2 separate regions of the Homo sapiens genome follow, and region 1 is linked to region 2. A link means that fine-mapping ties the variant in region 2 to the expression of a gene that starts in the linked region. Tissue or cell type: esophagus muscle. Region 2 holds a variant in brackets; the other region holds the start of a gene. All regions are shown on one strand. Distances are from middle to middle.

Evidence for each region. PIP is the estimated chance that this variant, and not a neighbour inherited with it, causes the effect.
Region 1: UPF3A starts here. The variant in region 2 is fine-mapped to the expression of UPF3A in esophagus muscle (GTEx, PIP above 0.99). The same link has a PIP of 0.9 or more in visceral fat.

Annotation. Positions count from the first base shown.
Region 1 is chr13:114,278,525-114,283,673 of GRCh38, forward strand. It overlaps UPF3A (UPF3A regulator of nonsense mediated mRNA decay), which reads left to right and starts at 3,077. Exons shown (of 10, transcript NM_023011.4): 1 at 3,077-3,322; 2 at 3,497-3,603; 3 at 4,313-4,419. The coding sequence starts at 3,116. It overlaps LOC105370384 (a long non-coding RNA gene), which reads right to left and starts at 2,545. Exons shown (of 4, transcript XR_007063887.1): 1 at 1,579-2,545. RefSeq lists enhancers at 2,305-2,604, 3,058-3,745 and silencers at 2,825-3,094, 3,325-3,504, 3,885-4,094.
Region 2 is chr13:114,227,168-114,232,316 of GRCh38, forward strand. No RefSeq gene overlaps it. Among named protein-coding and RNA genes, the nearest start is that of CDC16, 5.2 kb to the right of the region's middle. RefSeq lists an enhancer at 1,165-1,666. The variant T/G (reference allele first, on the strand shown) is at 2,853.

The DNA.
Region 1 (5,149 bases), 51 kb after region 2:
CGGCATCATTAACAAATTAGGCATTATACAGAAGTGAATTTTCCAGGCAACTGAGGTGCTGCCTTAAACACAAAACTTTTTATCTTAACCTATCTGAAGTGTATTCCCTGTATTTCTACCTTCTGAAGCAGAACAATGATAGCATTCATTTCTTGAGGATCCCCAGGTGTTAACTCTAGTAAATCTTTTAAGGAGGGCTTTGTTCCCCTTCATACTGATGAGGGTCTAGCACTGTTGTATGGTGCATTGAAGACTAGCATTCAGACCCCATCCTGTCTCCATTCATCATGGTGAAAGTCAGGTATCGCGCTGGAAGTTAATGCAGTAATACATTTAGAGACCATGAGTTACCCCACGCTAAATTAGACTCAAACTAATGCGTTTTCATGTTTTCATTTTTAAATGGCTTTTCTGTCTCTCTGTCAGGCATCATGTATGCCTCCCCTGTCTTGAGTTGGGGCTAAAAAATCAAGTGACTGAACTTAAGGTAATTATTTTTAAAACAACTAAAATGAAAGTATTATATTAATAAAGTGCTGAGTTTTTTACATTTATTTTTCCTGCCAGAGCAAAAAAAAAAAAAAAACCATTTAGTTTTCTCATTGATCACTGTTAGAATTTTTCTGGTTTCTGTAAGTGAATGTCAAAAGGTTCAGACACTTGAGTAAGCTGTAATTCGGATCAGCAGCAGTGTTAACACCAGTGTTTAGGCCTCTGAGAGTAAAAACAATGTGTCGTACTGCCAAGTATTGTTCCTGTTACTACCCAATTCTTCAGTATCTCAGGACACAGTTTATCCTAAAAAGGTGTCCTGTTTGCTAACTACAGTGGCTGTGTTATCGTTAAAGGAAATACTGGGAAGTGTTACGGTCACCAGCTTCAAGTCACTGTCATCTACCAATGAGATAGGGGCTACCAAGTAAAATGTAGCCCAGGGCCACATTCACAGATGGAAGTGTTCAGTTAAGCAAAAGTAAAGTTACATACTAAAAGCCCACATGAAGAAGGATTTGGAGATATTTCTTCCTGCTTTGCTTTGGCTGTAAAGTTCTGTACATGTATCAAACAGAGCATTTCAACAGGCTGGCTAATGTGTAGGAAGCTAGCTTTTCTTTGTGATATAATTTGTCATGTAAAATCATAAGCTATTTTACAAGTGTATTTCATTCACTGTATCTTAAAATTCATATGGTTTTATTTAAAGATAATTTCATCAAACAGCTGAATTCTAAAATCCTACCTTTTTTTCAAAATCATTTTTCAGAACTTTGCAATAACAGGAAGTAAAGAATCAGAAGGGTGTTAAAAAATTGACTTGGGGGGAAAAACATTTGGACATTTTGCTGGCTAGGTTTACGAAATATACACATCCAGCAAACATGTGAGTCCCTTTAGGGTACAGTGCAGTGAAGGGAGAAGTGGAAATACTCAAGGTTCTGGGGAAGGTCAAATGAAGGGTCCCTCACATTGGCTGAGGCCAACCTGGCTTCAGAGGTGTGCAGAGGCACCAGGCCGAGAACAGGGCTTTGCAGTGGTGAGGGCAAAACATGAACACAAGAAATACCCTAAGTTACTGACCTGGTTGTGCCTGGTGACAGATGGGACCAGCTCTTTTCTCCATTTGGTAATTTTGGAAAATTTGGCAGAGTTAATAAAGAAATCCCCTTGGTGCAAGATTGCTACAATAAGAATCTATTATAGATGGCAGATGTGAAGTTCACAGTCCTTTTTATTATCCTAACCTAGTAACATGACTAGAGGTAAAATTAAATATTGAGTTAGATGATTGTTTAATATTTTAAAACCAGAGGGAAGACATACAAATAGATTGAGAGCAGTTTCTTTCTAAAGATAATCAGAATATATCTCCTATATTTTAAACACTGCAGGAACAGTCAAAATTTTAAAATAAATGGTTTCCACATTTTTTTATCCCCATCTCTCCCCCTGACTATATAGTAAAATATTTTATTTGGCAACCACGTTTTCCTACTTTTAATCACACATCATCAGAGCTTTTCATCAGCCTAACTAGTCTTCCTACTCACTGAGTTGTGACGAAAGCCTGGTCTAGGCACTTTTACCACGGCCATGTTTTTGTTAAGATCCCTGCAGACTGTGAACTATGAAAACCAGCCCCTGGCCCCGCTTGTGGGTGCTGCAGAGCCGCGTGTGAACTGCTCCTAGGAAACCGCGTCTCTGGGCAGGGTGGCTCTCGGGCCGTGGATCCGCCTAAAAGCTTTTCTGCCAGTGACGCCCTTGGTCTCTGGATGTGTTCACGCCTCAGTGATTTTACTCTCTGGTTTCTTGTGTGTGCTTGAGATTCTTGAGAGAAAGCGTGCTGCAGATGAAAAATGCAGCCTACATGAAAAAGAGAAGGGGAAAGCCATTTTAAAATAACTTCCATGTAAGTTACTGTAATCAAAGTGCTGCTGCCTGTGTGTTCATAAAAAAATATGTGCAAGGGCCCGGAGCGGTGGCTCATGCCTGTAATCCCAGCACTTTGGGAGGCCGAGGTGGGCGGATCACTTGAGGTCAGGAGTTACCGAGACCATCCTGGCCAACAAGGTGAAACCCCGTCTCTACTTTAAAAAAACAAAAAAATTAGCCAGGGGTGGTGGCGCGTGCCTGTAGGTCCCAGCCACTCAGGAGGCTGAGGCAGAGGCTGCAGTGAGCCGAGATCGCGCCACTGCACTCCGGTCTGGGCGACAGAGCGAGACTGTCTCCAAAAAAATTAAGAATTCAAATGTGAACCCGGCTTTCATGGCGCCCCGGCCACGGAGAGCCTGGGGGAGTGGGATAAAAACGGTGCTGGGATGGGAGGGCGGCTTGTCCGCGAACTCCTCCCACCACGCCCGGACCAAAGCCGCCGGCGCCCCGCTTCCGGGGCCGCCCTAAACCGCGGCCGCCGCTCCCTGAGGGGCCGCCTGACCCGGCGGAAAGCCAGGCTGTGTGGCCGGAGGTCACCACCCCGACCCCGACTAGTCCCGCAGCGCCTGACCCCTTCGTGGGCGGCCCCGACCGCCGCGGCTCGAGGAGGGGCGGGGCTGGGGCGGCCGAGCTCTCGCGAGGTTTCGTCGGGGGCTGGCGGCTGCGGCTCGGCGGAGAGTGCGGCATGCGCTCGGAAAAGGAGGGGGCCGGAGGCCTTCGGGCGGCCGTTGCCGCGCGGGGCCCGAGCGGGAGGGAGAAGCTGTCGGCCCTAGAAGTGCAGTTCCACCGCGACTCGCAGCAGCAGGAGGCTGAGACGCCGCCAACTTCGTCCTCCGGTTGCGGGGGCGGTGCGGGCAAACCTCGCGAGGAGAAGAGGACGGCCCTGAGCAAGGTGGGGACGGGGGCGGGGCGCGCAAACCTCGCGAGGAGAGGACGGCCCTGAGTGGAGGGAGGGGAGGGAGGGGAGGGAGGGGCGGGGGCCGGGCCTCCCAGCGCGGTACGCGGTGCCTTTTGAGCTCCTTGTCCACGCTCCGCCCCGGTGGGAACGGCCGCGCGCTCCCCGCAGGTGGTCATCCGCCGCCTGCCTCCGGGCCTCACCAAGGAGCAGCTGGAGGAGCAGCTGCGCCCGCTGCCAGCACACGACTACTTCGAGTTCTTCGCCGCCGACCTGAGGTGAGGCCCGCCCCGAGGGGAGGAAGAGAGGGCGGAACCCAGAGCTCGGCGGCGGTGGCCGTCTCGTTGCCTTACGTTCCTTACCCTGATTTCTCCTATATGGGAGTCGTGTGAGCTTTTTGAATAAATACATTTCAGTAAAACGTGTCCGTTCCGTCAAAGAAAAATACCACCAACAAAGAAACACAGATGTGGTTTACATGAAAAATGCGGATGATTTTCAGACGGCTAACGCTTAGGAAAGCGGGTGCCTTTGAAAGGACCAGCGTTGCCCGCCCGGCGCCTCCCGGGCTTCCCTGCTCGTCCGCGGACGGGGCGCTGCGGGGCCGGGGGGCGCCGGCTCTTCCTGTGGCCTCCACGCTGGTGCCGCAGCCAGTGCGGTTTTAAATACCGGAGAAGGTCCCCAAGTCAGGAGAGTCTCTCGGCGCCACGGGTTCCTCTGGGAGTGCGCCCTGGCCTTGCCTTAGGGTTTCAGCCTCGGAGGACCGGTTCTGGGCAGTGGAGAAGGGACCTGAGTTCTGCCTTGTAAAGTTAACGTTTTGCGTTTGTTTTTGCTAAAGAATATCCAAGTTGTTACAATTAACTGAGATGATTTGGCACAAAAGTTTTATCTAAAGTAGTTTGTTGTGCCCAGAAAAGGAAAAAGAGGCTAAATTAATGGACTATTGTATTTTTCACTGACCATTTTCACTGTTATCTCTTATTTCAGTCTTTATCCTCATCTCTACTCAAGAGCATACATTAATTTTAGGAATCCTGATGACATCCTTCTTTTTAGAGATCGTTTTGATGGATATATCTTCCTTGACAGCAAAGGTTGGATTATTGGTTTTTAAAAATCTATTATAATCTGTAGGTATACTAATGAAGTATTGCTAGAATATTCGTGCTTTTTAAATTATTATTATTTTTTGAGACAGGGTCTTGCTCTGTTGCCCAGGCTGGAGTGCAGCAGCCGCAATCACGGCTCACTGCAGCCTCACACTGCGGCTCAAGCAATCCTCCAGCCTCCTAGGTAGCAGGGACCACAGGCGTGTGCCACCATGATCGGCTGATTTAAAAAAAAAATTGTGTAGAGACGGGGGTCTCACTGTGTTGCCCAGGCTGGTCTTGAACTCCTGGCTTCAAGTGATCCTCCCACCTCAGCCTCCCAAAGTGCTGGGATTACAGGCGTGAGCCACAGCATCCGGTCTATTTGTGCATTTTAATTAAAAAGTTCTCAGACTAAAATAAGTTTATAAATTTTGATTATGTTACTGTAATTATGTGCAGATATTAAAAATTGAAATTATTTAATTTTATTATTTAATCCAAAAAAATTCCAGAAATTCTGTGTAATAGTGACAGCCTATTTATGTATTATCATCAGAGAATGAAGGTTTTCATGAGTGAGTTTGTTGCATGAGAGAACTTGATCTTTTTAGGTTCTAAAGCTAAACTATTTTACCTGATAGGAATTTTCCAAAATGTACACTGACTTCTATCTTCCTAAACAGCATCCTTCATGACTGTACCATTTATGATAATGTCACCAGGAAGTCACTGC
Region 2 (5,149 bases):
GAAGATTGCTTGAGCCTGGGAGGTTTAGGCTGCAGTGAGCAGAGATCACACCAACGCACTCCAGCCTGGGTGACTGAGGGAGATCTTGTCTCAAAAACAAACAAACAAAAAAGATCCGGCTGACTGAAGTACCCAGGCAAATTAACCAGACACTTGGAGATTTTCTCATTTTCTACAAGGCTGAGGAGAAATTTTAAGGAGCCCACAATTCCAACACCCCATCACTCTTTCTCATGTTTTTCCCAATATTTTCATCAAATCATAAATTGTGGCAAAATAATGTATAATTCTCAATACATACAAAGTAACTCAGAATAAGGAGGACTGATCAAGAAGAATGTAACCAATCACCAAGTGCCACATTCACTGAAATCAGCAATTCATAAGCATAGTTATATGTGTGGTGTTGGGCAGGGGGGCTGTGGTGTGTGTGTGTGGTCTGTGTTGTGTACACCAGTGTGTGGTGTGTGACGTCTGTGGGGTATGTGTGTGGTATGTTGTGTGTGGACTAGTGTGCAGTGTGTAGTGTGTCTGTGAGGGGTGTGCACTAGTGTGTGGTGTGTGTGTCTGTGGGGTGTGTGTGTGGTATATTGTGTGGAGTATGTCTGTTGGGTTTGCACTAGTATGTGGGGTGTGGTATGTTGTGTGTGGTGTGTGTGGACTAGTGTGCGATGTGTAGTGTGTCTGTGGGGGGGTGTGCACCAGTGTGGGGGGTGTGTGTGTGTGTGTCTATCTCCAGATTAGATGATTTCCTGCTTTTTTTCAGTGATATACTGCTGTCATTTTTAAAAATTATCCTCAGCACTATGTTTCAGACAATAATGATAACATGTCTTGGCATAAGCAAGCTGTGTGTTAATAAAATATTTTTGACACTGAGCAACACCTGTAAGCATTGCAAACTATCCAGAGGCAGTTGTTTTTTTCACACATCACTGTAGGAAGCTTTTCCTCATTCATCTTATGGGCCCTCACTCACTGCGTTCCAGCCAGACTAGGTTTCTTTGCATTCCCTGAATGCCCTGGGCCTTCTCCCACCTCCACTCCCTCCCCTATCCACTGGTTCAACCAAATCCTTCAGTTCCATCTTGGCGTCCGTTTGAGGACCGCCACTGTGGCCTCCACAGGCGTCAAGCCTGTGTTCGCAGGGCCCTCCACAATCTGCACTCCGTCACCCGCTCCTGGCAGAACACTGGCACAGGAGACCAAAGTACACGTGGATGAGTCAATCAGAAGAACAACTTGTACTAGAAAGTGCTTTCCCAAATTTGACATCAAAATTGAGACCAGTGAACACTTTCATGGCTCATGACAAAGTTCATATCCACCTAACACAAAACGAGGGCATTATTCAGTTAATTTGATATACTAAAAAGATAATCAGATAACCAGCTAGAGATTATGACACTTCTGAATTGGCTGTTACCCTCATGTCGACGGGGCTGGACCCGTGTCTGTGGACAGCAGTCTTTGAGAAGCTGCAGCGGGAGCCTGTGCAGGATGACTAGTGTTGCAGTGTCCTGGGGGTGGTGGGACAGGATGCTAGGAAGAAAAGGCGTCCGGCACCTCAGGATGCTCTGTCCGGGTGGCTCAGCTTGCTTCCCGTAGCCTCCCAGTCCTTTTACTGAAGTTTCAGGAGGTGATGCTTGGGACGCCAGGCCTGGCAGATTCCTCTCCAGGCTTCCCTTCACCCCGCAGAGCTTCCCCGCACTGGCAGAACTCGATCACTGCCACCCAGAGGGCATTGTCTCTGAAGAGGCATGGAGAGTGGGGAAGCTGCAAACCCCAGGCTGATGTTCTTGGTGTCCCCACAGCCTGCTTTTGCCTTAAAACCCCAGGTATACTCACAAATGGGTACAACACCCAAGAGGCCATTGTCAGCTCAGGGACTTGGTTTTAGGTGCGGCTTTGGGAACTTGCTTAGGTAAGTTAGCCTTGCTGGGTCTTATTTTCCACATCAGTAAGTGCCACGAAGCTTAACATTTATAAGCCAACAGAATGCCTCAATTTTAATTAACAAACATTAATTATCAATCATTTTTTACCTGGATGGAGGTTAATTCAAAGGAAAGGTATTAACCCAGAGGGTTTTTCTTTTTAAGAGTGTTATTGTGGTGCCCATGTCCCGGCGGGGAAGCTCTGAGCTTCCTCTGCCCAACTCTGCAGGCGACGCTTATGGCCCCGTCTGTGGCGTCCAGGTGCACCTGGACAGGTCTCCAAGGCAGCGCTGGAGCAGATTTGCAGCCACAGGGTGTGGAGAAATGCAAGATGAATTGAGACTTGATGTTTGGATAGATGTTAATTCCAAACTTGAGAACTGTCTTTGTAAAATGACAACAAAGACGTATCTGCCAATCATTGACTTCTTAATCACTGCCTTTGCTCTTTCAAAGCCTCAACATTTTGCAGTTTCAGCCAACAGAATTCTCTAACTTTGTAAACTGCTCTCCTGTGGCGACAATACCACCTCACTCTAATCAGTGAGAAGGGTGATTGTTCTCTCTTCCTTTCAGAGTAATTTAAATTCTTGAGAAACCACTTGGCATGTTTAATATTCTGGTCATACTGAAAATCCAAGTCTTGTTTTCCTGACCGTATTTCAGGAACTAGTTTAAGGACGGAATTATCTTTTAAAACCACAAAACAAAGATTTTTACACACTGAATTTCACAAAACTCAGTATTGCAGAATTGCAAACATGCTCTGTGACTCAGTCTCCAGGGCTTAACTTCCCCCTTGTAGTAACTTTAGAGGGTCCTGAAATTTTAGCTTCTTTAACAAGGGCAAATACTGGGAGAGAATGTAAGGGGAGGAAAATAAACAGAATGTCTTCTGTTAGACAAGCCAGCCTC[T/G]GGCATGTACACATTTGGCAGAGTTCTAATTTTGTTTGCTAACCTCCGATCACTACCTGAAATGGGTCTCTGCAGGATATCAAGGTGTCAGCAGCGCTGTGCTCCTGGAGCATCTAGGTGAGAATCCCGTCCCTGGCCTTTCCCAGCTTCAGGAGGCCACCTGCACTCCCAGCTCACTGTTCTTCCTTCTTTCCTTCCTCCATCTTCAAAGCCAGCGGCGTAGCGTCTTCCAGTCTCTTTGACTCTGACCCCCCGGCCTCCCTCTTTCACTTGTAAGAACTCTTGTGATTACATCATACCCACCCACATAACCCATCTTAACTTAATCACCCCTTGCAAAGTCCATTTTGTCGTGTGAGGTAATACACAATATTTATGAGCCCTATCAGTTTAACCAATTAGTAAGTGTGGTAGAGGAAATACAACGATGGAAGGTTTAACCTGAGGAAAGAAAAATAGCTCAGAGCAGTCTGAACTATTTGAAGGATGCAAAATGTATCAGGACATGAGTGTGGGACTAACTTCAGTCACTCTGCTCCCCATGCCACAGGGGCAATTGTTTAAGGCATTTTGTTCCTGACTGCTGTGTCACCCATTATTTTCATGTTTCTGGAGTCTGTGAGACAAAGAAAAATGTATAGTCAATCAATAGCTTACGTTGTTTTAATGTAAATTTTTGATAAACAACTCAGGAACTGCCCTTTCTTTCCTCCTTAAACCCCCCGCCCCCAACCAGGTACCTGCTGCTGGTTGGGTGCATACTCAGGGAAATTCAAATCTGTGCTCCCAGGTGGTCATCCTCAGGGCTTGTGCTCAAATAAACTCCATGCTAACTCGTATTTTCTGAATCTTTCTATCTAAGGTTGACAAACCTAAGGGGCATCATTCTAAAATCAGTAAACATGATTTTGCTGTAGGCTATTACAGGTATAGAAGGGAAGAAAAGCACAAGAAATCTAACCAAATATAGAGACTCCAGGTCATTCTATTAGAATGTGATGTGGTTTGGATCTGTGTCCCCACCAAAGCTCATGTGGAATTATAATCCCTGCTGCTGGAGGTGGGGCTGGTGGGAGGTGGTTGGATCGTGGGGGTGGAGTGCCCATTGCTGCTGGCGGTGGGGCTGGTGGGAGGTGGTTGGATCGTGTGGGTGGAGTGCCCATTGCTGCTGGAGGTGGGGCTGGTGGGAGGTGGTTGGATCGTGCGGGTGGAGTGCCCATTGCTGCTGGCGGTGGGGCTGGTGGGAGGTGGTTGGATCGTGGGGGTGGAGTGCCCATTGCTGCTGGAGGTGGGGCTGGTGGGAGGTGGTTGGATCGTGGGGGTGGAGTGCCCATTGCTGCTGGAGGTGGGGCTGGTGGGAGGTGGTTGGATCGTGGGGGTGGAGTGCCCATTGCTGCTGGCGGTGGGGCTGGTGGGAGGTGGTTGGATCGTGCGGGTGGAGTGCCCATTGCTGCTGGAGGTGGGGCTGGTGGGAGGTGGTTGGATCGTGCGGGTGGAGTGCTCGTGAAGGGTTTAGCACCATCCTCTACTTGGGACTGTATAGTGAGTGAGTTCTTGTGAGGCCTGGTTGTTGAAAAGTGTGTGGCACCTGCCCCCTCTCTCCCTTTCTCTTGTTCTGGCCAGGTAAGTTGTGTCTGCTTCCCCTTCGCCTTTCGCCATGATTGTAAGTTTCCTGAGACCTGCACAGAAGCAGAAGCAGCTATGCTTCCTGTACAGCCTGCAGAACAGTAAACCAATTAAACCTCTTTTCTTATAAATTACCCAGTCTCAGGTGTTTCTTTTTATCTTTTTTTTTTTTGAGACGGAGTTTCACTCTTGTTGCCCAGGCTGGAGTGCAGTGGTGCAATCTTGGCTCACTGCAACCTCCGCCTCTGGGGTTCAAGTGACTCTCCTGCCTCAGCCTCCCGAGTAGCTGGGACTACGGGCATCTGCCACCATACCCGGCTAATTTTTTGTAGTTTTAGTAGAGATGGGGTTTCAGTATGTTGCCCAGGCTGGTCTTGATCTCCTGACCTCACATGATCCAGCTGCCTCGGACTCCCAAAGTGCTGGGATTAAAGGAATGAGCCACCGGGCCTGGCCTCAGGTGTTTCTTTACAGGAATGTGAGAACAGGCTAATACAGAAAATTGGTACTGAAAAGTGGGGCATTCGTATGAAGATACCTGAAAATGCGGAAATAACTTTGGAACTGGGTAATGGGCAGAGGTTGGAAAAATGTGGGGGGCTCAGAAGAAGACAAGAAGATGGGGGAAAATTTGGAACTTCCTAGAGACTTTTAAATTGTTGTGACCCAAA